Regions from separate parts of the Homo sapiens genome. Here region 1 is linked to region 2. Evidence: fine-mapped expression QTL. A gene starts in region 2. The other region holds a variant in brackets. All regions are shown on one strand. Distances are between the middles of the regions.

Region 1 (2,902 bases), 33 kb after region 2:
CAAAAATGGTAGTCATATGTGTTAGGTAATGTCCCCTCCTCCCCCCATAAAACAAAAAATCCATTTCATTTCCTTCTCGTAAACAAGGTCATGGTTTGGCTCCCCTCTTCCTGGCTAGTGAGAGCTTAGAGACTAAAACACAATTTTCACTACCACAGTACTCTTTGTCCTCTCCTCTCAGGCAGCGTCACTTGAAGAAAAGCTCTATTGTGATGGGAACAATCACAGGAACTAAGCGGCAACAAAATGGCTCCCCACCCCCTCTGCAAATCCCAACTCCATGCAAGCACTCTCCCTTCCCTCATTTTCTTTTCTTTTTTTTTGAGATGGAGTCTCGCTCTGTTGCCCAGGCTGGAGTGCAGTAGCGCGATCTCGGCTCACTGCAACCTCCACCTTCTGGTTTCAAGCAATTCTCCTGCCTCAGCCTCCCCAGTAGCTGGGACTACAGGCGTGTGCCACCACGCCTGGCTAATTTTTTTTTTTAATTTTTAGTAGAGACAGAGTTTCACCATGTTGGCCAGGCTGGTCTCGAACTCCTGGCCTCAAGTGATCCACCTGCCTCAGCCTCCCAAAGTGGTGGGATTACAGGTGTAAGCGACCACGCCCGGCCTTTTAAAATCGACTTGAGTCTCATCTCCTGAAATGCAAAATGCATTGGGCCTGTCTCTTACTTCTGCATGTCTCATAATGCTTAGCACAGCACAAGCCCCGAGAGCGCATCATACACCCTGGGGTGGGGAGCTCCTGGCAGGGCTGGATCCACTCACCATTCCTGCCATCCATTGGCACTTGGCTCAGCACAGTTAGGCCAACAAGGACATAATAGACAAGTCCAAAACAGTACTGCACGACGTGAATCATGACATTGGAGAAGACACTGACGTAGAGGCACTCGAAGAGTCTTCGTAAGCTGTGCAGCCACAGAAATACTAGCACTAAGAATGCAGACAGTGCCAGCTCCCCTCCTACAATTCAGAAGGCAACAGGGTCAGCATTTCTCTTCTGGGATTAATCCAAAGTTTTGTTTTTCTGTACTGTTAAGCAAAGTATTAAATCCCATCTAACATCTTTCTTTTTGGTAGTAAGGAAGAAATGGGCCAAATGAAGTCAAGGAATTTGACTTCACTCAAATTACACAGTTCACTGTGTTACACAGTTCACTGGGTTCACAAACACCCATCACTCAATTCTGCTTCATTGTGTGACAGCCTTCCAGGCTTCAGGGACATCACGGTCAGGAGGTCTGTGAAGAGGTCTGTGGGTTTCTGGTCCTGGCACTAACAGCCAGATGCAAACTGGAAGCGTTCCTGGTAGCCTCTGAGTGGCCCCAGCTGTGGGATCCCCAGTATCTCAGGCATCACAGAGGCAGAGAGGGGGACAGGAACAGAAACAGAGTTATGCATTTCTTTCCACATTAAAAAAAAGAAATTATACTTTTAGAGGCATGCTGAGCCCAAGATCTACTTCCTCACCTGTCTTTCACGACCTGCCCACCAAAAAATCTGAAGAAAAGCTGGCTTTAAAAAAACACACACTTAGTTTCTCTTTTTTTCTTTTTTGTTTTTTATTTTTTGGTTAATTTTATGTGTCAACTTCTTTATT[T/G]TTGAGACAGGGTCTTGCTCTGTCACCCAGGCTAGAGTGCAGTGGCACAGTCAGGCCTCACTGCAGCTTTGAACTCCTGAGCTCAAGTGATCCTCTGTCTCAGCTTCCTGAGTGGCTAGAACTATAGTCATGTGCCACCACACCTGACTAATTAAAAAAAAATTTTTTTTGTTGCCCAGGCTGGTCTCGAACTCCGGGCCTCAAGCCATCCTCCAGCCTCAGCCTCCCAAAGTGCTGGGATTTTAGGTGTGAGATACCACGCCCAGTCACTTAAAAAAGAAATGAGTCACGGCCGGGGGCGATGGCTCATGCCTGTAATCCTACCACTTTGGGAGTTGGAGGCGGGTGGATTGCCTGAGCTCAGGAGTTCGAGACCAGCCTGGGCAACATGGTGAAACCCTGTCTCTACTAAAAATACAAAAAATTAGCCAGGCATGGTGGTGTGCGCCTGTAGAACCAGCTACTTGGCAGGCTGAGGTAGTAGAACTGCTTGAACCTGGGAGGTGGAGGTTGCAGTGAGCCAAGATTGGGCCACTGCAATCAGCCTGGGAGATAGAGCAAGACTCTGTCTCCATTAAAAAAAAAAAAAAAAAAGTCTCACACACAAACACACACACACGCATGCACACCATAAAGATGCAACTTAATTAACTTTTACAAATTAAGCCAACCAATCCCACCCATGTAACAGCACCCAGATCCAGAAACAGAACACTTTAGGAAGCTGAGGTTGGAGGATCGCTTGAGACCAGGAGTTTGAGACCAGCCTGGGCAACACAGCAGGTACCCCATCTCTAAAAACATTAAAAAAAAAATTAGCTGGGCATAGTGGCGTGCACCTGTAGTCCCAACTACTCAAGAGGTGGAGGAGGGAGGACTGCTCGAGCCCAGGAGTTAAAGGCTGCAGTGAGCTATGATCATGCCACGGCACTCCAGCCTGTACAACAGAGTGAGACCCTCTCTCTTAAAAAAAGAAAAAGAAAGAAAAAAATGAAACAAACAAAAGAAACAGGCTGGATGCGGTGGCTCATGCCTGTAATCCCAGCACTTTGAGAGGCTGAGGCAGGCGGATCACAAGGTCAGGAGTTCAAGACCAGCCTGGCCAACAGAGTGAAACCCTGTCTCTACTAAAAATACAAAAATTAGCCGGGCATGGTGGCGCATGCCTGTAGTCCCAGCTACTCAGGAGGCTGAGGCAGGAGAATCGCTTGAACCCGGGAGGGGTAGGTTGTGGTGAGCTGAGATCAGGCCACTGCACTCCAGCCTGGGCAACAGAGCAAGGCTCCATCTCAAAAAAAAA
Region 2 (2,902 bases):
CACCCTTAACCAAGAAATTTTAGGGAAGTCTTCACAGAGAGTAGGTATCTGCTGGTTCTCCAAGGTGGGAAGAGTTGATCCGTGGCTTCAAACTCCAGGTCTTTTTTTTTTTTTCTTTGAAAAGGTCTTGTGTTAGGGAGGAACTGGCAAGAGAGCACAAAGCCTGTCCCAAAGGGCTCTTGAAGCACATTCTTTTTTGCAGATGAGCATATCCCTTTAGCATATGAGCAAGAAAGCGGTGGCTAAAAAGCCTGGAGGTGAGCTGGAGCCAGATCAGAAGAAACCTGAACATCACTCTCCTAAAAAGGCTGGACTGAAATTAGTGGAGGCAACTCACCGACGACTTCTGACAAGATGGCAGAATTCAATGTTCGGGAAGATTAGTTACGTGGAGATGGGCTGGATGTGGCCTGGGTGGGAGTGGGGGTTTGAGTGCCACACTGGCCGGGATTCAGGGAGCAGATACTGGAAATGACGACAAAGCCCACGACTGGGAGAAGGGAGAAATGTTAAAACGCTGCCAAGTGACTAAGGACTAATTCTATTAACAGATTAAAAAGTTGATTTCTAGTATCTATTCAGGGAAGGACAAAATACAGGATTCTGTTTTACTTATAAATGTAGTTTTGGCATCCCACATCGCTGCAGCACGCTGTACTGCCGGAGACTAATTCCTCTGCGTTCCTAAAGGCTACTTCCTGCTAGCCAAAGCACATTTTTAAAAAGTGAGAGTCATGGTTCATAATCCATATTTGGCAAAAAGCACAGGCAGTGCCAAGTTGAATTTGGGTAAGCAGTTTGGCATAAGCTATTTCAACAATGAAATGGCCGATGTGATGATCCTCAGGGAATACAAAAAGCCTCCTAGCAGCCTTCTGTTAAAAACTTTTTGGTAGGGATGAGTCTTTCTAGCTACTCTAAGACACATCTGATCAATAAAACGCCCATCCCGGAGCAGCATCTTGGCCCTCCGGAGATCAACGTTTATAGCGGGCTCCTCTTGGACTCTCCCTCTCCCTTTCCCTAAAGGAGCGGGCAAGACCAGGCCTCACCGGAAAACAGCGCAGCCGACCGCCCTCCACCCCGGGAGCAGGGGCCGGGCTCCCCTCCCCCAGCCGAGGCCGGCGGAGTGCGGCGCTTTCAAAGGCCTGGAGCCTGGTACTCGGCGCAGCCGGCCCTGCAGCCTCGCTCGCCCCATCCCGGCCCGCTCACCTCGACCCGGGCCGGCTCGGGGCCCTGCACAGCCACAGGCTGCGGCTGCAGCTGCTGGGCCGGCGCCGGCGGTTCTTTGTTCCGGTGGCTAAGGTCTTCATCTGGGCCGGCCCGGACCGCAGCCGGGGCCCACAGCAGCGGAACCAGAAAGAGCAGAAGCAGCCGGGGCGCCGATGCGCGGCCGTTCCCTGGAGCCGCGGCCGCCATCCCGCCTGCCGGGCCGGCCGCGCACGGGCGCCGCAAGAGGAAGTGCCGGCGACGGGAAGCCTCGACCCCGAACAGCCTCCGCGGCGCGTCCTCACGACTCGCCGCCGCCGCCGCTTAGGGAGCAGTCAGCACCATCCGGGAGGTGCAAGCAGCGGGAGTGAGGTGAGGGGCAGGCCGAAGTCCGCAGCCCCGGCTCGGCGCCCGTCCTCTCCGGCGGCGGCTAAACTGGAGTCAGCCAGCTGCCTCGGCGCGGCCCAGCCCCGACTCCTCCCGGCCCCGTCCCTGCCCGCGACGGCCTCCCATTGGCCCGGCGACCGCCTTGGCGTCGTGACGTCCTCTGCCAGGTTGAGGTGCGGCGCGGGCCCTCCTCCCATTGGATCCGGCGCTCCCGGCAGGTACCCGGCGCCGCGTGTCCTTCCTCTGCTCGCATCCTCACCGCGCCGCGCCCGGGGCTCCCTTTCTCTCTCTGTGCCCCACCGTCCCAGGACTGCGAGGTCCTTCACTTCTGCTTCCTCCAGAGCCTTCCGCCGTAATGTCCGCACCCGCTGTTCCCTGCGCTTAGTCTCTCTTAGAGGTCAAATTAGTGCGAGCGCCTCTGGTTACGTGGCGCTGACTCGCAGGCACTGCCACGCCCAGCTCTGTTCCGCTCTCCCCCGCCGAGCCTCTGTGCCACCCTCCATGTGGCCACCTACCGCCAAAAACGTTCTTAGGAGCTCAAAATGCTATTTTTTTTTTAAAGTTCTGAAATGGGATTTGGAAATAACATGACATTTTTCAAGCCTTGTTTTAAGATACTGCCTATAATTACCCCAGACCAAAAATGGCTAACGTTGCCCTTGTCCAGTATGGCCTTGACGTTTTGGGTGCATCTTGTTTTGTGCTATTCCTTAGACCCTTTAAAAATGCTGGGCTTTTGAAATGGACTGTTTAAGACTTTTGCAGGATGGAGCTTTGAGTGGGCAAGACTAGAAGACAGGAAAGGATGGTCTTGAGTTAGGCTTGAGAATATTTTTACGTCTTCCCAAAAGAAAAAGTGAGCTACTTAATTACCATAAGTTTGAGACCTAGTCCCTAATAAAAATCGATAGTGCTAACCATGTGCCAGGCACTAATCTAATATTATACATATTTACATACAGTAAACCTGTACTCAGTAAAGAGCTAAGGAAGTTTATCACTAACTGAAACAAAAAATTAATCCACCAAAACAATCTGTGGGAAAGTGGGCAAACCTACTTTGAGTTCACCAAAGATACAGTGTTTGTCACAGGATAATAAAATTTCCGTCTGTTTTTTTGTTTTGTTGTTTTCTTTGTTTTTGTTTTTGAGACGGAGTTTCGCGCTTGTTGCTCAGGATGGAGTGCAATGGTGAGATCTCGGCCCACTGCAACCTCCTCCTCCCGGGTACAAGAGATTCTCCTGCCTCAGCTTCCCGAGTAGCTGGGATTACAGGCATGCTCCACCATACGCGGCTAACTTTGTA

Direction of the effects. Positions count from the first base shown, and alleles are read on the strand shown. Sizes are in standard deviations (SD) of each study's normalised expression.
For the expression in nucleus accumbens of the gene that starts at base 1,652 in region 2, G is the low allele of the variant in region 1 and T is the other (small effect, 0.20 SD a copy in GTEx).

What was found. PIP is the estimated chance that this variant, and not a neighbour inherited with it, causes the effect.
Region 1: its variant is the best candidate, but not a certain one, in a credible set for the expression of TMEM165 in nucleus accumbens (GTEx, PIP 0.72).

What each region holds. Positions count from the first base shown.
Region 1 is chr4:55,362,137-55,365,038 of GRCh38, reverse strand. It overlaps SRD5A3 (steroid 5 alpha-reductase 3), which reads right to left. Exons shown (of 5, transcript NM_024592.5): 3 at 768-965. Among named protein-coding and RNA genes, the nearest start is that of LINC02928, 14 kb to the left of the region's middle. RefSeq lists an enhancer at 1-463. The variant T/G (reference allele first, on the strand shown) is at 1,603.
Region 2 is chr4:55,394,707-55,397,608 of GRCh38, reverse strand. It overlaps TMEM165 (transmembrane protein 165), which reads right to left and starts at 1,652. Exons shown (of 6, transcript NM_018475.5): 1 at 1,213-1,652. The coding sequence starts at 1,419. RefSeq lists silencers at 977-1,446, 1,647-1,846.